Linked DNA regions of Homo sapiens: region 2 is linked to region 1. The links come from fine-mapping of genetic effects on gene expression. A gene starts in region 1. The other region holds a variant in brackets. All regions are shown on one strand. Distances are from middle to middle. Region 1 holds the start of RALGPS1 (Ral GEF with PH domain and SH3 binding motif 1). Region 2 overlaps RALGPS1 (Ral GEF with PH domain and SH3 binding motif 1).

Evidence for each region. PIP is the estimated chance that this variant, and not a neighbour inherited with it, causes the effect.
Region 2: its variant is fine-mapped to the expression of RALGPS1 in whole blood (INTERVAL, PIP above 0.99).

Annotation. Positions count from the first base shown.
Region 1 is chr9:126,911,441-126,923,259 of GRCh38, reverse strand. RALGPS1 (Ral GEF with PH domain and SH3 binding motif 1) reads right to left here and starts at 8,478. Exons shown (of 19, transcript NM_014636.3): 1 at 8,285-8,478. RefSeq lists enhancers at 6,174-6,223, 7,517-7,586 and a silencer at 8,077-8,506.
Region 2 is chr9:126,938,137-126,951,394 of GRCh38, reverse strand. All of the region lies in intron 1 of RALGPS1 (Ral GEF with PH domain and SH3 binding motif 1), which reads right to left. Among named protein-coding and RNA genes, the nearest start is that of RALGPS1, 30 kb to the right of the region's middle. The variant A/G (reference allele first, on the strand shown) is at 10,034.

The sequences.
Region 1 (11,819 bases):
GCCCTAGCTACCTGCAGAATCAACATAAGGCTGGAATAAAAAGTGTGAAGAGACCTTTTTAAGTGTTGTAAAGGGTTGAGATATTGTATAATGGACAGAACCTCCGATCTAACAACCTTCTCATTTTATAGATTCAGATCAGTCACTGGGAGCCCACTATTTACTCCATTTGTTCATCCAATAAACACTTAAGGAGCATCTACTACAGGCCGGATGCTAGGCTAGGCACTGAGGACCTGCTGGTGGGCAAAACAGTCACGGCCCATGACCTGATGGGACTGTACTGCACCAGGAGAGACAGACATATCCAGCAATTACCCTAGAAAGCATATTCTTACACCTCACCGGCCATGCTAATGATGTGGTCTTTTTTCTGACAGAAATTAGAAGCCACTGGAGGCTTTTAAGCAAAGGGAATGGCATGCTCAGACCATTCTGGCTGCCTTGTACCAGCCCTGGGGTAGGCCCTGAATACGCAAGAACAAATGTGGACTCTCACTCTGTAAAGTCTAGAGAAAGGTCATGAGGGAGTCACTGGTGGGCACAATTGTACTATATGCTAAGGCAGGGCACACAGTGAGAGAGTTGTGGGAGCCCAGTAGGAGAGCAATCTATAAATGCTAGTGGACTGAAAGTGTTAGAGATATGGTGCCTAGAAGGAAAAAATAAACAGATGCACAGAGGACTAATCCTCTCTGTAATTCCACATAACGAACTTTATGCCAGAGAAAGACACAGCAAATTGTCTTGAATCTATTAACTTGTTTTCCATAAATATTTAATTATTCAGAAATATGCCAAAAGCACAAACTTCCCTTGCCCTAGTTATCAGGCTTATACAACAGTGGGTGATAATTACTGTATCCAATAAACATGGACTTAAATACATTCCCTATTCTTCCTTTCATCTCAGATGATTTTAAAAGAAACCTATGATGTCAAGGCCAAAGATTCAAATTTTCTTCTGCTTACTCAAAAATTGACTTAACCTTAAAAAATAAATATTTAAATCCTGAAGAGGGAAAGTATCATGTTGTATTATCAGTTTATATTAAAGACCAATCATTTACACGGAATAATGGAATGATTAAACAGAAAGAACTTGAGAAGCAGCCCCCAGTTCCTAAATGGGCCTGAGACAAACGCGCCCAGAATGGCTCCGTCCTCTCCCTCACCAGTACCCTATGTCTTTGTGGGAGCTGAGGCTTGCCTCTGCAATCCCAGCGCAGGAAGAGTTCTGCCTGCCACCCTGGACATGCTTCCCAGCCCCCCATCACCAAGTACATGTGTGTTTTAACACATTGCTTGTGCAGTAACTCATATAACTTCCACAGACAATACATTAATACCCTGAGAAAAGCATCCTAAAAATCTTACTACCCTGGGTGAAAAGAGGACACTATTCTAGCTCCCACTTCCTGGGTGCTCACAATGTGCAAGCCCTCTGCTAAGCCCTATTTTGTAGCGTCTCCCTGAAACCCTGTACGAACCACACAAAGGCGCGTACTATCTCACCTCTTGTATCGATGAGGAAACAGAGGTATAGTCATTTGCTCAAAGCCACATGGCTTGTGAGTGATGGTGTCAGGACACAAACCCACATCTGTTTGTGTCCCAACTCCAGAGTCCGTGTTTTAAGCACTGCCCTATCTGCCTCTCTGATGCTCAGGAGATAAATCTCCTGCAAAGAAGAACACGACAGACTTGAAAGCTCTACAGAAAAACCAAGGAATTATTTGCTGTTCTGGGTCTTCAGGTCTCTGCGCTCCTCAGCAAGCACAGGTGAGACAAGTACAACTCATGCCTCTCCTTGGGGAGAAGTCATGGAATGATCAGTGCAGGTACTCAGACAAAGAAAAGGTGTTCACAATGATGACAGGTGAAATGTATCTTTCAGAAGAGCTCACGCAGAAAGTGGGGAGGAAACACTTACAGACAAGCCTATAGCCCTGGAGCCATAATATCAGCCACAGGGCTAGTGAGGAAGGTCCTGAGGACTCCTTGAGCGCTTGGTGACTTCAGAGTTGATCTCTCAGACGACTTGACCTTCACATTCAATACCTAACTTTCATCATGACCACGACACTATCACTAGGATCCTGAGAAACAGCTCAAGAGGTGCTTCTTGGTTCTCCCACAGCATCACGTATAATTACAATAGTGAGCACTCTGTAAGCATTAGCTTCCCAGCAGGCACTGTGCTAAACACTGCACTGCATTATTTCACTGAAATCTTCAACAGCCCTAAGTTAGGTAAAACTGCTATCCCCACTTTACCAAATCAGTAAACCAAGACTCAGAGCTGGGAAGACACCTGCCCATGGTCACACAGGTTGTCTGTGACAGAGGCAGGATTTGAACCCGGGTCTGCCTGGCCCCGAGCCTGAAACTGCTTGGCCACTTCATGAGAGGTTCTCTGTTATGGCCAATCGCCTTCAGTCACCTTCTGTTTGTGGGTGACTTCTCCACTGACTGTGAGATCCCAAAGGGCAGGGACAAAGCTTCATCTGCATGTGTCCAGCATCCATTACAAGGTTGAGCCCAAAGCAAGAGCCCAGCAAGGCAGGTTAATGAATGCCCACCTGAAGAAAGTCAAGTGTATTCTCTGCCACGAAAGGAGGCCCAGAAACACTCCTCACAGAAGCCAATCCAACCAACTCTTCCCCCGAGTTAAAATCTATGAGCCACCTACTCAGCTCCTTTGGCCTGCACCTCCACAACTCCAGCCCAAGGCAAGGGAGAGCAGCCATACTTCTGTGGAAAGGAGAGGTGAGTTTCAGCAAGCATGAGCAGCTCATTCCAGACTTGTCCATTTTTCTGCTTCCTCATCTTGACTTTCAGCATCTGCAACAAATATTTCCTTCTTCCCCATCCCTAAGATTTTTTAGGACAAGTATCATCAGCCATACCCAAAGCCTACACCTAGCATATAGCACAGCACATGCCTGTCTCAGAGTCAGCACTCAAATATTTGGGGAGTGAAGAAGTAGAGTCCAGAGAATGGGTTTCACCAGAGACCTGGTGACGTATAAATAAGAATTTGCCACCACTTAGTAGTATGATTTGTCTAAGCACAGGTCCATCACACTATTCAACAAGAGCCTACCCTGTGTCAAGCTCTGGAGACCCAGCAGCAAAGAAAGCAGGAGACTTTCCCTGTGCAGAGTAGAGACACAGGCAAAAAGTCACACATGCAATAACATGATGTGTGCTCTGATCCAGGTACACACAGAATGAAAGTCAAGGGAGTACAAATAGGAGGGTGCCTGGAAAAATTAAGTAGGTTTCACAAAGGAGGGAAAATTTGAGCTGAGGAGGCATTCCAAACCACCCCAGGGAGAAGTCACTGTTCCCTGCCTCTGTGATCTCACACAATGCTCGCCTCCCACGACCTGGCCCACTATACTGTTTGGTAATCAATGGCTTGTGCGCCGATCTCCACACACAGCATGTGAGCACCTCAAAGGCAAGGACTTTAGGTATTCTCCATGGCTCACCCTTAATTGTCCAGTAAATATCTGCTCACAAAGAATAGAATCTATTTCAGATTATTAATAACATAGCAGCTCATCCTTCTTAAGCACCTACTATGACCTGCTATTGCTGTATGTACTTTGCATAGCATGATCTCCCTTCCTCCGCACAAAAACCCCCAAAGACAGATCCTATTATCATTATCTATTTTACAGATATGGAAACTAAGATGCAAAAAGATTAGATAAATTGTTCCAAGTCACACAGCCAGTAAGTGACAGAGCTGGACTTTGAATCAAGGCCTGAATGGAAAATCAGTTCTCAATTACCAGTGAACAAATCTCTTTTCCTTTCTCTTTCTGTACTCCGCCTTGCATCCAGATACATGGATTGCCCTTTAATCTACTGTTCACTGGGACCAAGGCCACTTTTTTTCCTAGGACAAAGGATGTCTCTTGTTAGTCTTCTAAACAATGACTGCTAACCAATACTGAGTAAACATCATTGGGGTGTGGGGGGTGGAGGTACAAAATTATGCTTATATCAGTCAAAAACATTTATTAAGAAGGAACTGTATATACTAACTGACACATTTTCCAATGCTAGAACAATGTCCAAAGTAAATCAAGTGGATACATGAAGCACCAATGAGTATGTATAAAATGCTATTCTTTGTGTAAGAGAAAGAATATATAATAAACAAGAAACTGGTAACAGTGGCTGCCTCTAGGGAAAAGGACTAGGAACTGTCAACTTGAGGCAAGAAAGACACTTACAACTTATTCCCTCACTAGCCTTAAAAAAAATCCATGTGTGGGCCCGGTGCGGTGGCTCACGCCTATAATCCCAGCACTTTGGGAGGCCGAGGCAGGCGGATCACCTGAGGTCTGCAGTTCAAGACCAGCCTGACCAACATGGAGAAACCCCCTCTACTAAAAATACAAAATTAGCCAGGCGTGGTGGGGCATGCCTGTAATCCCAGCTACTCTGGAGGCTGAGGCAGGAGAATGGCTTGAACCCGGGAGGCGGAGGTTGCTGTGAGCCAAGATCGCGCCATTGCACTCCAGCCTGGGCAACAAGAGTGAAACTCTGTCTCAAAAAAAAAAAAAAAATCCATGTGTGATTTTTTTTTTACTTCCTCAAAATATAAAATAAAAACTATACTTGCTAGACGTGGTGGCTCATGCCTGTAATCTCAGCACTTTGGGAGGCCGATGCGGGGATCACTTGAGCCCAGGAGTTCGAGACCAGCCTGGGCAACATAGTGAGACTCCCATCTCTACAAAAAATTTAAAAATTAGCCAGGTGTTGTGGCGCAGTACTTGGGAGGCTACGGTGGGAGGATCATTTGAGCCTGGGAGGTCAAGGCTGCAGTGAGCCGTGACTGTGCCACTGCACTCCAATCTGGCTAACAGAGGGAGACCCTGTCTCTTAAAAAAAGTTTTAAACGATATTCAAAGAAACCATTTATTACTGGGCCTTTCCCAAATGCTTACATACGTACGATTGCAACCATGAAGAATTATGTATGTTTACGAACAAAAATTGAATGAATTTAATGTGTGATGAAATGAAACCATGCAACAACTTTTGTCTTTTATGTTGAAGTTCACTAATTTTACTAATGTTACAATATTTTTGTGCAATAAATAAAATGTATGTTAAGGGTACAGAAACCATATGCATAAAAGTAGCAGGGACAACTTGCCACACCTTCTTTCCAGTCAAAGTCCTTCATCTGTTCTTTCAACAAGCATTCGGTGAGCACCTACTATGGCCAGGCAAGGTGCTAGACAGATATTTTTAAAAGAAGAACTAAACAAGAGGTCATTAGTTTCCTCCCTCCTGCCTTTGAAGAAAAGATGACGGCATGCTAACCAGAAGGCTAGAGCTCGAAGGACTCTTGGTGATCACATAGTCTAACACCCTCCTCACTCAGCTAAGAAACCCAAGGTCTGGAGACAGGAAGGGATTTGTTCAAGGTTACATAAAAAATAGAGGCCTCAGAATTCCCTGTCCTGCTCTCCTTGCATGTTACATGCTGTTCTGAGTAGCTTGTGTTGAAAGATGGGCAGGCAGTGAGAGACAGAACAGGACCCTAACCAGGTGGATCAGGTGCCTTCTCCCCTCCCGTCTCATTTATTCTTCATAACAACCTCACAAGGTGGGCATGGTTATCCTTGCTTTACAAATAAAGAAACCAAAGCTCTGTGAAGCTAAGGAAGTAGTGCTGGTTCACTCAGCAGGAGGTGGCAGCCTGCAGTTTCAAACAGACCTGACTGACTTCCAAGTCTGAGCTCTTACCCTCCATACTGAAAAGGAAAATCCATTTCAAGAGGTGGGCCATATCACAGAGCCTCACATGCAGTATTTTTCATTAATGAAGTATTTCTCTCCACCCTGAATGTTGCTAATCCCCTCATTATTCAACACATGTTCTAGGTCTTCTTTGCCACCAAGTTTGAGCTTTCCTTCTAACCCAAAGAGCATGATGGTCACTCAGACAGCAGCAGTCTCTGAGAGCCATTAACACCGCTTCTGCCAAGACAGAGTGGGAGAACTCTCACATGCTGCTTCTAGATCCTCTGGGACCTGCCACACAAGCACAGGCACCAGTAAGGGCCTAATCCCCTCAATGCTACTGGGTCACCACTGCACCAACTAGTGGTAATGAGGGAGGCCAGCACCATGGTTCCTGGCCCCTAAAGTCCCACAGCTTCTACAGTGAAAAAAAAAAAATTCAGGTTAGTAGAGAAGGCTCCACCTACCTTCACTTCTGTCCATGCAACGAAGGTAGGAGGCATTACAGTTTGGACTGGTCAACTACCAGTGAGCAGAGGCACTGGGCTTTGAAAGGTCACATATATGGGTATACAACACTCTTCTGAAATTCAGAAAAAGCCCTGTCATCCTGCTTCCTTCTCCCCGCCCCTGTGGGTACACAGTGGAGTCAGGCATTGCCTTCTTTTGGGGGTCTTCTTTTGGGGATTTTTGTGTGTTTTGAGATGGAAAAGTCTCACTCCATCGCCCAGGGTGGAGTGCAGTGGCACGATCTCGGCTCACTGCAACCTCCGCCTCCCACGTTCAAGCAATTCTCGGCCTCAGCCTCCTGAGTAGCTGAGATTACAGGTGCCCGCCACCATGCCCGGCTGACTTTTGTATTTTTTAGTAGAGAGGGGGTTTCACCATGTTGGCCAGGCTGGTCTCGGACTCCTGACCTCAAATGATCCACCCGCCTTGGCCTCCCAAAGTGCTGGGATTACAAGCGTGAGCCACCGCGCCCGACCCTCTTGGAATGTGGTAAAATCGGGGTCTGTACTTGGATGGGGGCAGAGGGACTTCCATAGCCTCAGGCCTGAGCTTTATGTTCCAGCTCAGAGTCCTCACCGGGGTTGGGGTCTAAAGGTCAGCAAACAAATGTTCTGCTGCTTCCACTTGCCACTGCTCCCTGCGTTGCAGCAGCTCCCTCAGAGGCCTCGCAGAGAGAAGCAGTCACGATCCAAGACACGGCTGAGTCTTTTGGGAACTCCCAACAAAACCTCATCCCAAACTGCGAAAAGACAGTGGTCTAGTCTCACCTCTTAACTAGAAACAAACCCTCTCTTCTTTAGACTCTCCAGTCCCTGAATCCAACCTGCCCATCGGCACAAGAAAAAGGAAACTCATAACTTTATCCAGCGATTTGCTCAGTAGGCACTGTTTCATCCTATCCTCACCAGGCCCCTGGGAGGCACACAGGCAGGTACTAACATGCTCATTTTGCAACGGAGGAAACAGGTGAAAAACTCTCCCAGGTAGCATAGTCAAAAGCTTCTGAATTCTCATCCCTGCTCTCCCCACTTAACAGGCTGCCATTTCAGTCTTTTTGAGACGCACTGCTGAGATCTACAGCAGCTTCTGGTACCAGTGGCCAGCAAGCCAGGACCCCTCCCAAGCCTCATACTACTCTTCAAGCACACACATTTTTCAACAACCGATCATCCAATGACAACCAACCCCCCGCCCCCCGCATCCTGGCAAGCCCCTTCAATAGCAACAGGAAAGCCCCTGAGGTGCGAAAAACAGCGCGCCCCACTTAGGGCGCGGCGTAGCATAGGGGAGGCAACCGGCCAGTAACCAGGGCAGCTGAGCTCCAAGCCCGAGTCAGCAGAGGCACAGGCAGGCCCGGACGGCCCTTCTAGCGGCAGCCCCGGATGCCCCCAGAATCCTCAGGGAGCCCAAAGCCCCCGCTCCCACCCAAGCACCCCTGGGCAGCGGAGAGGGCGGCCTTTCCTTCTCGGGCGACCACTCACCCTCGCCTGCTCCTCACCTGGGGCCCTGCTTCCGTACCGCAGCCACCCGGGCCCCGCCCCCCACCGCTGCAGGTCCCCGGGCCCCGCCCCCCGCACCTGTGCTTTCCTTGGGTCCAGCGCGGGCCGCACCCCACAGCCCCGCCCACGGCAGCCCCGCCGGCCCCGCCCCCCGCACCTGCAGCCGCGGCGCCCCGCCCAACTGCCCCCCCGGCCCCGCCCCCCGCGCCCGCGCCTCTTCCCCGCCGTCCTTCACGCTCCCGGGGACCAGCGCGCCCCTGGCCCCGGACCCCAGAACCCCCGGACCCCGGCCAGGCCCCGGCGCCGGGCACCCGCAGGCACGGCCCCGGCCCCGCCTCCCGCACCGAGGCCCCTCCCCGGCTTCGGCGGCCCTCGGGGTCCCGCCCCCCACACCTGCAGCTCCCTCAGGCCCGGCCTCAGGGCCCGCCCCGCCCCGCCCCGCCCCGTCGGCCGCGCCTCTCACCGCCGCTCTCCCCGCCGCCGCAGTCCCGGCCGGTCACCTTGACGCGGGCCGCAGTGGCTGCCGCCGCTTCCTCATGGCCCTGGGAGCGGCCCAGCGGCAGCGGCGCCTTCGCTTGGAGGCCGGGGCCACGCCGAGCCGGGCCGGGGCCGGGCCAGGCGCAGCTGGAGCGCGGGCAGACGCGGGAGCGGAGCCGGTGCCCAGCCGCAGTAGGAACCGTCCGCTCCAGGGCCTGAGCGGCGGGCCTCTCATCCAATCGGCGCGCGGCACCAGAACAGCCCCCCAACCAGCTCGTTGTAGGGGCGGAGACACGCAAATCGGCCGGCTGGTCGTACCAGTGCGCAGCCGCTGCATCCGCGGTCCTCCCGGGCCTCGGCCTCCGAGCTCATCTGCAGACGCCCTCCCCGCCCGCAGGGATGCTGCGCTGCCAGCACACCCGGCCCGCCGCCCGCCACGCCCATCCCCTGCCTAGAAATAGCCGCGCATCTTATTCCCCACACGGCCGTCCAGGCCTCACCCGATATCCCCCGTAAATCCCTACCTGGGATTTATCGTTTTCAACAAAAATGGTTTTGTGAGCGAGACATCGCCTTAGTGCCCATTCTTCACAGCTGGGAGGTAGGCACAGAGCCCAGAACGTCAGAGCCAGAAGAAACCTCGGAGTTCCTGGCGGGGCGGGGGGGGGGGCGGTCTCATCCATTTTACAGCTGGGCAGAGTTAGGCCCAACGAGGTGAAGGGACTTGCCCAAGACCACACAGGAGCAAAGCTGGGGAATGAGCCCGGATCCTGTCTCTCTGCTCCCACATCTTTACTCTGTGCCAGGCACGGTGAGGTGGGCACAGAGGTTAAGTCATTTAGCTAGAGTCGCAGGGATAATAAATTGCAAAGACAATTGAAGCCAGGTCTGTGAATCCCTGGAAATCTGGAACCACAGCAAAACTCCGTTCTGCCTCCCACAGACAGGAGGTACTATGACCTGCCCTACTCCGAAAGATTCTTGGACAAATAGAACATCATTCTGACAATCTTCAAAGTAATTTTGCAGTAATATGAATGAATATGGAATGATTGGTTATTATGCTTCCCAAAGCTTATGAAAGGAAAAAAGAAACAAACAAAAAAGAATATAAATAGAGTCAGTAGAAGTTAAACCACCTGTGTCTTAAAAGACCTCTGGGAGAAGTTTCTGCTATTTTGTATTAAGAAAACGGTAATCATCGAAGAAGGTGCTTAATTATTTTGCATAAAGAGAACAAGAGCCTGGCGAGTTGGCTCATGCCTGTAATCCCAGCACTTTGGGAAGCCAAAGCGGGAGGATTGCTTGAGTTCAGAAGTGTGAGACCAGCCTGGGCAACATGGCCAGACCCTGTCTCTAATAACAATACAAAAATTAGCGAGGCGTGGTGGCGCAGACTGTAGTCCCAGCTACTCAGGAGAGTGAGATGGGAGTATCACTTGAGCCCGGGAGGTCAAGGCTGCAGTGAGCCTCAAGTGATGGCGCCACTGCACTCCAGCCTGGATGACAGAGCGATACCCTGTCTCAAAAAAGAGAGAGAGACCATCCTGGCTAACATGGTGAAAACCTGTCTCTACTAAAAATACAAAAAATTAGCCGGGCGTGGTGCGGACGCCTGTAGTCCCAGCTACTCGGGAGGCTGAGGCAGGAGAACGGCGTGAACTTGGGAGGCGGTGCTTGCAGTGAGCTGAGATCGCACCACTGCACTCCAGCCTGGGCGACAGAGCGAGACTTCGTCCCAAAAAAAAAAAAGAAGAGAGAGAGAGAACAAGAGACAGTGTAGTGCAATGGTTCTGCCCTGGCTCTGCCACCAGCAAGCTGTGTACATGTGAGCAAGTTACTTAGCATATCTATGTGCCTCCGTTTCTTTCTTTTTTTTTTTTTTTTTTTTTGAGACGGAGTCTTGCTCTGTTGCCCAGGCTGGAGTGCAGTGGCACGATCTTGGCTCACTGCAACCTCCGTCTCCCAGGTTCAAGCAATTCTCCTGCCTCAGCCTCCCAAGTAGCTGGGATTACAGACGCCAGACACACCATGCTCAGCTAATTTTTGTATTTTAGTAGAGATGGGTTTTCACCATGTTAGCCAGGTTGGTCGCGAACTCCTGACCTCAGGTGATCTGCCTACCTTGGCCTCCCAAAGTGCTGGGATTACAGGCTTGAGCCACCGCGCCCAACCTGCCTCGGTTTCTTTATTGAAAGATGAGAATGATAAAAGTAGCAACCTCTTTAGACAGGCTGTTGGCAGGAATTAATGAGATGATACATGGAAGAGTGCCTGGCACCTAACAGGACCTCAATAAACATTGGCTACTATTATATTTACCTGTGTGACTTTGGGCAAGCACAGAAGTGTGTGCAATGTACGCTTGCTAAATGGCATCTATACTTTTATTATGCTTATGCATACTTTCTAAGTTTTTTCAATGAACACAGATTCTTTTGTGATATATTAGAAGTTATTATAAACCCAATTTTAAAATGAGGAAAGGTCATTTAATATTGATTCTTGATGCTTCCAGAAGGATGTATTCATTCTTTCTACAAATATCTAATGGTTCTCTGCTATGCGCCAAGTGCTACTGTAAATGCTGAGAAAACAGCAGTGAATAAAAGAGACAAAAATTCTTGTCCTCGTGGAGTTGACATTCTAGTGGGGTAAGGCAGCTATTAAAATCAATATTTACAGTAGTAGGCTAGATAGAGAAAAGTGCTATGGGAGTAAAATGAAGCAAGGAAGAAGGGAGTTCAACGTTAAAGAAGACAGAAAAGTTTAGATGGTGATAAGCGAGAAATAATAGGTTTCTTAAAGCAATAAAGCCAAGTGCAGTCTGAGAAAGAGAGAGAGAGAGAAGGATCTGAATAGACATTTCTCCAAAGAAGATACACAGTGGTCAATAAGCACATGAAAAAGTGCTCAATATCATTAGCCATTAGGAAAATGCAAATCAAAACCACAATGAGATACCACTTCACACCCATTAGGATGGCTACAACAAATAAGATAGACAATAACAAGTGTTGATGAGAAGGTGAAGAGAATAGAACCCTTGGCTGGGCGTGGTGGCTCACGCCTGTCTCCCAAGGTGGGTGGATCACCTGCGGTCAGGAGTTCAAGACCAGCCTGGCCAACATGGTGAAACCCCATCTCTACTAAAAATACAAAAAAATTAGCTGGGTGTGGTGGCAAGTGGCTATAATCCCAGCTGAGGCAAGAAAATCACTCGAACCTGGGAAGTGGAGGTTGCAGTGAGCTGAGATGGCGCCATTGCACTCCAGTCTGGAGGACAAGAGTGAAACTCCCTCTCAAAAAAAAAAAAAAAAAGAGAGAGAGAGAATGGAACCCTTATACACTGCTGGTGGAAATATAAAATGGTACAACCACTTTAGAAAACATAGAGTTAGCATATGACTCAATCACTCCACTCCTACTTACCACCCAAGAAGAAATGGACACAACATGTCTGCACAAAAACTTGTAGACAGGTGTTCACGGCAGCATCATTCACAATATCAAAAAATGTGAATAACCCAAATGTCTATCAAGTGATGAATAGATAAA
Region 2 (13,258 bases), 27 kb before region 1:
TCAAGGATATTGGTCTAAAATTCTCTTTTTTGGTTGTGTCTCTGCCCGGCTTTGGTATCAGGATGACGCTGGCCTCATAAAATGAGTTAGGGAGGATTCCCTCTTTTTCTATTGATTGGAATAGTTTCAGAAGGAATGGTACCAGTTCCTCCTTGTACCTCTGGTAGAATTCGGCTGTGAATCCATCTGGTCCTGGACTCTTTTTGGTTGGTAAGCTATTGATTATTGCCACAATTTCAGCTCCTGTTATTGGTCTATTCAGAGATTCAACTTCTTCCTGGTTTAGACTTGGGAGAGTGTATGTGTCGAGGAATTTATCCATTTCTTCCAGATTTTCTAGTTTATTTGCATAGAGGTGTTTGTTGTATTCTCTGATGGTAGCTTGTATTTCTGTGGGATCAATGGTGATATCCCCTTTATCATTTTTTATTGTGTCTATTTTATTCTTCTCTCTTTTTTTCTTTATTAGTCTTGCTAGCAGTCTATCAATTTTGTTGATCCTTTCAAAAAACCAGCTCCTGGATTCATTAATTTTTTGAAGGGTTTTTTTTTTGTCTCTATTTCCTTCAGTTCTGCTCTGATTTTAGTTATTTCTTGCCTTCTGCTAGCTTTTGAATGTGTTTGCTCTTGCTTTTCTAGTTCTTTTAATTGTGATGTTAGGGTGTCAATTTTGGATCTTTCCTGCTTTCTCTTGTGGGCATTTAGTGCTACAAATTTCCCTCTACACACTGCTTTGAATGTGTCCCAGAGATTCTGGTATGTTGTGTCTTTGTTCTCGTTGGTTTCAAAGAACATCTTTATTTCTGCCTTCATTTCGTTATGTACCCAGTAGTCATTCAGGAGCAGGTTGTTCAGTTTCCATGTAGTTGAGCAGTTTTGAGTGAGTTTCTACAAACCACTGCTCAATGAAATAAAAGAGGATACAAACAAATGGAAGAACATTCCATGCTCATGGGTAGGAAGAATCAATATCGTGAAAATGGCCATACTGCCCAAGGTGATTTATAGATTCAATGCCATCCCCATCAAGCTACCAATGACTTTCTTCACAGAATTGGAAAAAACTACTTTAAAGTTCATATGGAACCAAAAAAGAGCCCACATCGCCAAGTGAATCCTAAGCCAAAAGAACAAAGCTGGAGGCATCACACTACCTGACTTCAAACTATACTACAAGGCTACAGTAACCAAAACAGCATGGTACTGGTACCAAAACAGAGATATAGATCAATGGAACAGAACAGAGCCCTCAAAAATAACGCCGTGTATCTACAACTATCTGATCTTTGACAAACCTGAGAAAAACAAGCAATGGGGAAAGGATTCCCTATTTAATAAATGGTGCTGGGAAAACTGGCTAGCCATATGTAGAAAGCTGAAACTGGATCCCTTCCTTACACCTTATACAAAAATTAATTCAAGATGGATTAAAGGCTTAAACATTAGACATAAAACCATAAAAACCCTAGAAGAAAACCTAGGCATTACCATTCAGGACACAGGCATGGGCAAGGACTTCATGTCTAAAACACCAAAAGCAATGGCAACAAAAGCCAAAATTGACAAATGGGATCTAATTAAACTAAAGAGCTTCTGCACAGCAAAAGAAACTACCATCAGAGTGAACAGGCAACCTACAAAATGGGAGAAAATTTTCACAACCTACTCATCTGACAAAGGGCTAATATCCAGAATCTACAATGAACTCAGACAAATTTACACGAAAAAAACAAACAACCCCATCAAAAAGTGGGCAAAGGATATGAACAGACACTTCTCAAAAGAAGACATTTATGCAGCCAAAAGACAAATGAAAAAATGCTCATCATCACTGGTCATCAGAGAAATGCAAATCAAAACCACAATGAGATACCATCTCACACCAGTTAGAATGGCAATCATTAAAAAGTCAGGAAACAACAGGTGCTGGAGAGGATGTGGAGAAACAGGAACACTTTGACGCTGTTGGTGGGACTATAAACTAGTTCAACCATTGTGGAAGTCAGTGTGGCGATTCCTCAGGGATCTGGAACTAGAAATACCATTTGACCCAGCCATCCCATTACTGGGTATATACCCAAAGGACTATAAATCATGCTGCTATAAAGACACATGCACACCTATGTTTATTGCGGCACTATTCACAATAGCAAAGACTTGGAACCAACCCAAATGTCCAACAATGATAGACTGGATTAAGAAAATGTGGCACATATACACCATGGAATACTATGCAGTCATAAAAAATGATGAGTTCATGTCCTTTGTAGGGACATGGATGAAACTGGAAATCATCCTCAGTAAACTATCGCAAGGACAAAAAACCAAACACCGCATGTTCTCACTCACAGATGGGAATTGAACAATGAGAACACATGGACACAGGAAGGGAACATCACACTCTGGGGACTGTTGTGGGGTGGGGGTAGGGGGGAGGGATAGCATTAGGAGATATACCTAATGCTAAATGACGAGTTAATGGGTGCAGCACACCAGCATGGCACATGCATACATATGTAACTAACCTGCACATTGTGCACATGTACCCTAAAACTTAAAGTATAATAAAAAAAAAAAAGAACTTGGGAGATTGAGCAAGCACGGAAAGAAGGGCCAGGAAAAGCGTCTTCTTGGGGAAGGGAAGCGCCTATGTTTACGGAGCTGAATTGGGGGCCGGCACAAACAGGCAGCCATCCTGTGACAGGCATTCTCAAGCGCCCCCATGTCCCAGGCTCTGTATGCTGAAGCTGAGGAGGCAGAAGGGGAGAAAACCCATCCTTGGCCTCAGGAAATTTATAGTCCAGCCCAGGGATGCCTAACCTTTTCAAGGATGAGGACTTTCTGAAATTTTATTTTATTTTATTTTTTCTTTTTGAGATGGAGTTTCACTCTGTTGCACAGGCTGGAGTGCAGTGGTGCAATCTCAGCTCACTGCAACCTCTGCCTCCCAGGTTCAAGCGAGCGATTCTCCTGCCTCCGCCTCCCAAGTAGCTGGGACTACAGGCATGCACCACCACGCCCAGCTAATTTTTTGTATTTTTAGTAGAGACAGAGTTTCACCATATTGGCCAGGCTGGTCTTAAACTCCAGGCCTCAAGTGATCTGCCCACCTCGGCCTCCCAAAGTGTTGGGATTACAGGCATGAGCCACTGCGCCCAGCCTCAATTTTTAAAAGAAAAGTAATTCATATGCATAGTAGAATTATGTAAACTGGATAAAAAGGTATAAAATATAAAAGGCAAGTCTGCTCTCCCCAAAGCCCCTACCTAGTCCCTGTCCCCAGGGTTAACACAGTTCACAGTGTTGGGTAGCATCTTAATGCACACACCCACACAGATACTCTGATATGTGTGGATATACAGGGATATAAATATAAAGGGAAACACACTCTAGAGACCCGCCTTACAACACTAAAAAAAATGTAGTTCTCTTTTTGTCATCTGTTAAGGAAAAAAACCTTCTGTAACAAAAAGCTATGATAAATTCACCAACACTCTGGTTTAACAATCCCTGCAGTAGCTACATATATTTGAGTAATAGTAGGGGCCATGCACAGCACCCACCCTTCATTCTATAGACAAGGCTCAGAGCACACCTGGATTTGGGGAGGCTTTAAAGTCACCTGTAGCTCAACCCCACCCCCACCAGGGTAACAAGCTGCAGTGCAGGCTTGATAGGAGCACAAAACAAGGCAGCTACAGAGCAAGTGAAAGAAGCCAGGCTCCTCCCTGTGGCTTAGGGGACAGAGAACCAGGATCTGAACACTCACTTTTCACTTACTTTGTGCCCTTGGCCAGTTGCTTGACCTGGCCAACATCCACTTTCCTCCTCTGGGGAGAATCATGCTACAGGTTGCGCATCCCTTATTCGAAATGCTTGGGACCAGAAGTGTTTCAGATTTCTGATTTTTTGGATTTTGGAATATGTGCATTATCTTACCAGCTGAGCATCCCAAATCCCCAAATCCAAAATCCAAAATGCTCCAATGAGCATTTCCTTTGAGCATCATGTCAGCACTCAAAGAGTCTCAGATTTTGGAGCATTTTTATTTCAGATTTTCAGAGTTGGGATGCTCATCCTGTACCTACCCCTGTACCTACTTCACAGGAGGCTGAAAGGATTAATAAGATGATGTATGTAGAAGTGGCTGGTGCAGAGCCTGGCAGGTAGCGTGGATTCAAGAAATGACAGCAATTGTTTCTGGTAACACCCTCCACCACCACTTCACCTTCCAGCACAGACAATGCTCTCTTAGCCTAAGACCACAAGAATCAATTTGAAGGGGAGGCAATGAAACAAATGTGAATGAGGAATATGCATTTCTCTGAAGACCAGGAAAGGGTTCTCTGGTTGGCAGGAGAGTTTTCTTTTAGACCCTCTATGAAAGGCTGGCTAGAGCGTCCCCATCTCCCACATAAGCATCTACAATCTACTCTGGAAATCGAAGGTTCTCCCCTTCCAAAACAAGGTGCCTGCAGAAGACAGGTGAAGGAGGAAAAAATCCTCCCCTGCAGCCACCAGCTGACAAGACCTGATTTCTTCCATAGGGAAAGGAGGCAAATTTTAGGAAACTGGGAGGCCAGGGGATATTTGTGGGGGTGGGCTTAAAGGGAACATCAAGAAATGAGGGTAAAAGGGAGAGTGAAGAAATGAGGGTGGTCTACCTCAGACATACCAGATACCCACAAAAGCCCTGGGTGCATCAGAGGTGCCCTGCTATTCTGGAAGCCTGAATAGTGAAGCTTCCCCTTGTGTGTGTTCGGAATCACAGTGCACAGTAGCCAGGCCAGGAACTCAACCCCCCATTTCCTTTTCCTAACTCTGTAAAGCCCTCAATCTTTTTTTTTTTTTTTTTTTTTTTGAGACAGATTCTTGCTCCCTCACCCAGGCTGGAGTGCAGTGGCGCAACCTCAGCTCACTGCAACCTCCGTCTCCCAGGTTCAAGCAATTCTCCTGCCTCAGCCTCCCAAGTAGCTGGGATTACAGGTGTGTGCCACCACGCCCAGGTAATTTTTGTATTTTTAGTAGAGACGGGGTTTCGCCACATTGGCCAGGATGGTCTCGAACTCCTGACCTCAGGTGATCTGCCCATCTCGGCCTCCCGAGTGAGGCATGAGCCTCCATGCCTGGCCAAACCCTCAATCTTAATCAGGATCCAGGGAACATTTGCTTTGAGTATCAGCAGGCAACATTGTCTGGAACTAGAAGGGGTACTGTCTCTGTCCTGGGCCATCACGGACAGAGAAAATTCCTCTCTGTGGAATATGGCCAGGTCTCACCACCTCCAATCCCTCCATCTTGATCCAAGCCACCAAAACCTCCCATCTACCGTGAAAGCCTCTTACGCAGTCTCCCTGCTGCGCCCCGTCCCTCTATGGTTTATTCTTAATAGAGTGATTGCAAAAGCTAAGTCATAACTTGCATAACAATACACTAAAAAAGGTACATTTTCCTATATCTAAAGCATACCCAGCTGGAGAAAAACAGAATGCATCTTCCCCTTCTCCAAACGGAAGCTGAAGAAATACCCTGACTGATAAGAGAAGACGATGTCTGCCCCAGGGAACGACCTTATCACACAGAAGCAGAAAGCAGGAACTGCAGAAAGAATTCAGTCCATGGTATAAGGTACTGCAGAACCACTTGGGATGAGACCTGAGAACAGGCCTGAGGATATAATGGCAAGAACACCCTGTGTGCAGTGTCAGGGAAGGCCCGATGCACAATGGGACCTGATGGTCCTGACTCTCCCAGAGCCAAGTACAGCAGAAAGGGGAAGGCAAGAGATGAGGGCAGCAGATTGAAGCTGGGGTTTTGAGGTGCCTGAGGAAGACTTCTAAGCACATCCTCAGACTGAAAGAGTTAGCAGAGGGCAAAATATTAAAAATGCAAGAGAAGGCCAAGCGAAGTGGCTCATGCCTTTAATCCCAGCACTTTGGGAGGCTGAGGCAGGCAAATCACGAAGTCAGGAGTTCGAGATCTGCCTGGCTAACATGGCGAAACCCCGTCTCTACTAAAAATACAAAAAATTAGCTGGGTGTAGTGGTGAGTGCCTGTAATCCCAGCTACTCGGGAGGCTGAGGCAGGAGAATGGGTTGAACCAGGGAGGCGGAGGTTGCAGTGAGCCGAGATTGTGCCACCGCACTCCAGCCTGGGTGACAGAGTGAGACTCCATCTCAAAAAAAAAGCAAGAGAAAGAGAGGACACCTGACAAAGACAGTCTTAGAGAAGTGTCAGACCCTGTTAGCTGCTTCCCTTGCAACTGGAGGAAGGAGTACAGTGGCCCACTCATACCTCACCTGGAGGAGGGCAGCAGTGGGGAGCCTCCTGGGCTGCCTCCTGTGGACAGGAAGACTCATGTCCACGGGGAGTGCCAGCCAGGCCAGGTGCCTACAACAACACCTGCAGGGCTAGATGAGACTCTTTCACTCTATAGGCTTGACAAATAGAATCACCAAAACTAGACTCTAAATTTCATCCACCAAGGCTCAGCTGATACCTTCTGGACAGACTAAGGAACTATCACAGACCAGAGGAAACTGATGAGACTCAATGGCTGAATGCACTGAGGGACCCTAGACTGGATCCTGAAACAGAAAAGGGACACTGTGGGGAAAACTGGTAACATCTGAAAAAGGTCTGTAGTTCAGTAAACAGTGTGGTACCTATTAATTTCATAATAGTACTGTGGTTATGTAAGCTCTGTACTGTTTTGCAGCCTTTCTATAAATCTAAAATAATCTCAAAATAAAAAGTTAAAAAAAAATTAAGGATTCTATATTCTCATATCCTATCCCACCCTCCCTCCCCACCCAATTTCCCTCCCCATAGTCTCCCTTAGGAATAGGTCTAAAAACAGGGGTCTCAACATTTCCTGTGAAAAACCATTATGGGAGGACTGCAGCCCTGGGTGTTGACAATCAGGCATTTTACACCTGTTACGTGTGGGCCAAACAGAAACCATCTAAGGTGGACTGTGGAGGCGTGTAGGGAGCAGGGGGTCTTGACCTCCTTTTCCCTCCCTCTTAGATCCTGCCAAAGGCAGAGGCATTACTGGTCTGGCTGGTACCAAGCCAGGTCAGGATAGGACCACATCCATTAGTGTCACTAAGTGCCAAAAGATCATCACCTATTCAAGGCCTTCTCTTCTCTCCACTGCTGCTGTGAGATGTGTGGTGAACTAGGGCCTCTGCTTGAGCTCAGCCCCTCTCTGACTCCTGCGTGCATGCCTAAGGGTGCCCACCAGGCCTGCATGTCCCATACACTGCTGCTGGCTGGCGGATGGTAAGGGACCCAGACACAGATCAAGTTCAGGCAAGTGGGAGGCCCCCATGGGCTGCGAGCCCATTACCTGCTCCAACCCAGCTTTGACCAGAGGGTCCTGTGTTAGGGTGCCAGGCTTATAATGAGGGTCTCTGAGTTCTCCTTGGCTGCTGTTCCTTCTGCGATGAGGTACCTCAGAAACCTTGAGGCAAGGGTTAGGTTGGCAGAACAGGATACCCACATTACATTATTGGGCCTTGTTGACAAACAGCATTGAGTCCTGGCCCTACGACCTAATTTTCATAATGAACAGCCTGGTCCTTCCCTTAAAACAAGAAGGAAGCTGTCTACAGAGACAGGCAGGGTGGGCAAGGTCTGGTTGGAAAAGGGGCAGTGAAAGCAGTCCAGGCAGCGGTAGGAGAAAGACTTCAGGAGTAAAGGGCACACCCCAGGTGACAGGAAAACGGAAAACCTGCACCCAGTTTCTAAGGCTCTTCAGGGTCAGCCCACATTCCACGGAGAGCACTGCAGGGTTGATGGTGTGGGTTGGAGGTGCCAGAAAGGCACAGGGACAGATGACACTTTCACATCAACCTCGACTAATAGACTATGAAGATAATGAGAGGAGTCCACCCATTTGCCTTCCACTCTCCAGGTCCTGCTGAAAGGACCAAATAAATAAAACATAAGGCCAGGCACGGTGGTTCACGCCTGTAATCCCAGCACTTTGGGAAGCCAAGGAGGGCAGATCACTTGAGGTCAGGAGTTCACAACCAGCCTGGCCAACATGACAAAACCCTGTCTCTACTAAAAATATAAAAATTAGCCGGGCGTGGTGGTGCATGCCTGTGATCCCAGCTACTCAGGAGGCTGAGGCAGAAGAATCGCTTGAATCCAGGAGGTGGAGGTTGCAGTGAGCTGAGATTGCGCCACTGCACTCTAGCCTGGGCAACAGAGTGAGTAAGACTCCATCTCAAAAAAGAAAAAAAGGAAAAAATCTGTTGCAGCATTAAAATACAGAAAAGGATGACATCAATGAACTATAAATTATTAAGAATTTCTAGATTTCAAGCAAATGGAAGTGGACTAGAGAGAAATCTATGAATGATATCTATCCAGCTATAAAATCAACAATTTCCTCTGTACAAACAATAGCCAGCTAGAAAGCGTAATGGCCCAAGAGCCCACTAACAAAAGAGAAAAATATCCAGAAATAAACTTTAAAAGAAATGTACAAAAATCATTTAAAGAAAATTATAAAACCTTACTAAAAGACAAAAAAAAAGACTTAAATCAAAGGAGAGACATTTCACTCCCTGGAATAAGGAGACAGTATTGTAAAGCCATCAATTCCACCCAATCAATCTATAAATAAAATGTAAGTTCACTCCAAATCCTAAGGGGATTCATTTTGGAACTCAACAAATTGATTTAAAATTTCATCTGGAAGAATAATTAAAAACAGCTAAGACATTTTCAAAAAAGAACTACAGTAAGAAGAGTCTTATCCTGCCAGGAAGCCACAGTCAATGATAAATGGCAAAGAAACAGAGAAACAGATTTGCAGGACAAGACACAGTCCAGAACACAGGATCCAGTATATGTGAGGAGTAGCATATAACCAAGAGGCATTTCAAACAGTGGAGAAGATAGATTCTTCAATAAATGTTGATGAAACTATTTACTATTCACTTGGGAAAAAGAGGAATTTGTTTAAAATCTTGCTCAATATCATATATAAGGATAAACTTTTGATGGATTCAAGACTTAACAACAAAAAAAGGAAAAATACTAAAGAAAACACAGATCAAATTTTTAAAATAATTTGGAGGTAAAAAAAAAAAGTCCTAAGAGTGATACAAAAGCCAGAAAACTACTGGTAGATTTAGCTACATTAAAATTAAAACTTCTATAAAGGAAAAGACATCATGAAAAAAATGAAAGGCAGTCAATAAACTGGGAAAAGGGTGTTTGTGATGTCACATGACAGATGATGAATTAACATCCTTAATACAGGATGGCTCAACACTCGGAAGATGGGTGGACCTGAACAGGGGGTTTGTTCTCTCTAAACCTCAGCTTTCTCATCAGGTGAAAAGGAGAAACTAAGAGCAGCATCTTTCTTAGAGGGTTGGTGTGAGGATTAATATGAGCTATTTTTTGTAAAGCACTAAGCCCAGAGTTCAAACAAAGCAAGGAAATCATCAAATAGATAACCAGAGAGTATATGTTCCAGGAAAGCTACTGACTGTAACACTGGCTACAAAAAAGCCAGGAAAACACTTGAAAACCACAGTAAAGACAGTTAGAACACATCCATTCAATGGGATACTAAGTGGTAGATAAAAAGGTGAGGGAGATCAATACTTCCTGACAGAGAGCAATGTCCATAAACTCAGGGCACACTCACTTTCATGCTTTCATTCAATAACTATTTCCTGAAAAGCTAGTATATATCAAGCACTGTCCTAGATGCTAGGGATAGAGCAGTGAAGAAAAAACCCAAAACCCCCAGTATATTCTAGTGGGGGAAACAGACACTAAGTAAATCATTCAGCAAAAGACAAGGCTTGCCAGCTCATGGTAAGTGATAAAGAAAAAAGTAAAGCAGAGAAAAGTAGGCAGGGTGGGAGACAGGTCATAATTTTCTCTTTTTTTTACACTTATTTTTAATTTTTGCAGGTACACAGCAGGTGCATATATTTATGGGGTATATGGGATATTTTGATACAGGTATACAATGTGTAATAATCACATCAGGGTAAATGGA[A/G]TATCTGTCACCTCAAGCACTTATCCTTTGTGTTACAAACAATCCAGTTATACTCCTTTTGTTATTTTTAAATGTACAATTAAATTATTATTGACTACAATCACCCTGTTGTGCTATCAAATACTAGATCTTATCCAATCTTCTTCCTATCTTTGAATCCATTAATCATCCCTCCTTCCCCAACAACCCCCCCCCACAACTAGACGAAGTCATAATTTTAAAGGGGGGGGGCGTATATGAGAAGTCCTCACTGAGAAAATGACACTTGAACATGTTTTAAAATCTTTATAACACATGTGAACACACATATAGAAGTATAGAAGGATATTCACTAAACTGTTAATATCACTGCCTCTTAATGGCATTATTGTATGGCACTTTTACTTTCTATTTCTGTACACTTCAATATTTTCTGGTTTCTTTTGAAATAGGTATGGAAAACATTTATGAGCAGCACAGCACCTAGAGGAAAAAACTGAAAATGAACTTACACAGACAAGGATGGCTCAGAGCTGGGTATTTAAAGACAGCGGTTCCCAGGTTCGGGTCTGGTGCCTGGTGCTGCAGCACCACCTGGTGGCCAATCACCTAACTACTCAATTTCATACAACCATGCCGAGAAAGCAAGAGACAAGATGCACTTTTGTACACAACAGCATAAGAATATACCTGTTCGACGGATCACGAGGTCAGGAGATCGAGACCGTCCTGGCTAACACGACAAAACCCCACCTCTACTACAAATACAAAAAAATTAGCTGGGCATGGTGGCGGGCGGCTTGTAGTCCCGGCTACTCAGGAGGCTGAGGCAGGAGAATGGCGTGAACCCGGGAGGCAGAGCTTGCAGTGAGCCAAGATCGCGCCACTGCACTCCAGCCTAGGCAACAGAGCGAGACTCCATCTCAAAAAAAAAAAAAAAATTATATATATACATACACCTGCCCAATGGACAGGGACTGAAGAAAAGTACACAAACATAAACACTATTCAGTATGTTGGGGTGGCAGGTGGCAGGATCGTAGCAGAATTTACGTGGCTTGGACTTTCAATCATAGGTTTATAATGATGCTTCATTTCTTTATTTCTAACTGTGCAATGGAACAGTCCAACACGACATCTGAATGTACTCACTCACTCAACAGAAGTGGAGTGAGAGGCGGGCTGGGCAGCACAGATTCATAACCCAGGCTATTTGCACATGGTAAAGAAGTGTGACAGGACCTCAGGGCACAGGTTGCTTGGAAAAGGAGGGGTCAGCCTCAATGGGAGTGCCTGGGAGATAAGATCCCAGAACACTGGCTTGGATGAGTAGCCACACCCCTGCACTCAAATTATTAATCATTAATAGCTTGTACACAGACGACTGAACTAGTACCTCCTCGCTGAAGCCCAGAGGCGAATGAAACGTATCCCTTAGGTGAGCAGGAAGTGACTTTGATCGCAGAGGACTCTACCTAGAATACTGTTTCCTTCCCCTCCACCCAACAGGCCTCCAGCCTGGGTCCATGGCCTTCCTCTGCAGGCTCTCTGCTTAGCCCTCCGCAACGCTTGTCACTCTGACATGCCAATGCGGCTGCTCCCTGCTCAACCATAAGAGCTCTGTAAAGCGAGGGTCATGTCTATCCCATTCACCCTCTATGTCTGTCTCACTCACTCTCAGAGAGGGACAGGACTTGGAAGTCCAACTGTCCTGGGTTTGAATCCTGCTCTGCCATCTACCACCTATGTGGCAAGTGCCTCTTGGCTTCTATTTCCCCTTCTGTAAAGTGGGCATACAGGATTGTACCCATCTCATGTGGCTGTGGTAAGGATTAACTAATAGCAACAGCTGGTGCTCAGGAGTACTGGGGGTGCCAAGCACTCGTCTAAGTGCTCTATATGTGTTAAGTTCCTTAACTGAAGCCATCTCTGTGCAATAAGTGTTGATCACAGTGCCTGGCATGGGATACATGTTCAAATACTGTTATTTCATCCCCAGTTTCCAGCACAGTGCCCAGCATAGTCTATTGTGTTCTCAATAAAAATGAATGAATACTTCCCCTGCCTACTATGGAAAGGAGAAAGGTCAGAGTGAGCCTGTGATGCTCAAGCCACCCCATGAGCACCCAAGCTGCCTGGTTCTGCTGTCCCAAAAGGCTGAAGGATAGTACAAAGGGACTGGAAGGAGAGAAGGTGCCTTGACAGACACATGCGACCCTGCAGGACTGGGGAGCAATGAGGATCACAGAGCCCATCAGGGGAACATGTTCTGTGCTGAAGTGCAGACCCTCTGCCCCCCTCTCCCACTTCCAGCCCTTAGAAGTGGCTCCGCTGTAGGTACAGCTCAGCCAAGGAAGGAGAGATTTGTGGATACCACATCAGGTCCCAGAAGGTCATTCAGGCACATCCCTGGCCACACCCAGCCTGCTTCTTTCACCACCAGCAAAAACGGGGGCTAGTTTGTCTCCCTAAAACCCTCCTCCCTCCTCTACTCCTGGCTCTTTCCTACTCTTCCATTCTCATTTAAATGTCACTTCCTGTGGGAAATCTCAGTGATGCCCTAGGTAGGTCCTTCTCCTACAGCTTTTAGAGCATCTAGACTTCTCCACAACACTCAAAACATTTGTCGTGAAGTGTGTGTTCATCTTCCTCACTGGACTGTCACAGCTGTGGCCACCCACAGCTTCCATGACTCGCAAAGCCTTTTCTGAGCAAGCCTACTTTGAAAACATATCCTTATTGCTATAGCCAAACCCAGTAGGGGTGTACAAATAAGAAGCCATCAACCCACCCTTCCTTGTACGCCCTCCCCCTTCCACCCACCTCACTTTGAGCCACCAAGAGCACATTCCTCCATGCCTTTCTGCCTACCAACATGTAATCATGCTGGGCTCATGCCAGAGACCAGGGTCATGGCCTCCATGCCTGCTGGGCCCAGACAGATCACGTCAATGGTGAAGCTGGAGGTTTAACAGAATAGGGACAGACAGGGCCTATGGCTACTACACCACCTAAAACTTCACATTTTCAAAAGGTGTAGCGTATTCAACTGGCCAAAGCAAGCATCAGAGAGGGAGATTAGACAGAGCTCCTCAGGTAGGGTAGCAGATTTTTTAAACCTAACAATATATCCTGGCCTTCTCTCGTGCCAATTTCTAGAGAGCTGGCTCCTTTCCAACACTGCTGATGGGTGCTCCCCTTCTTTTCACCTTTTTGCCACTATAAACAGTGATGCAGAAAATGGCA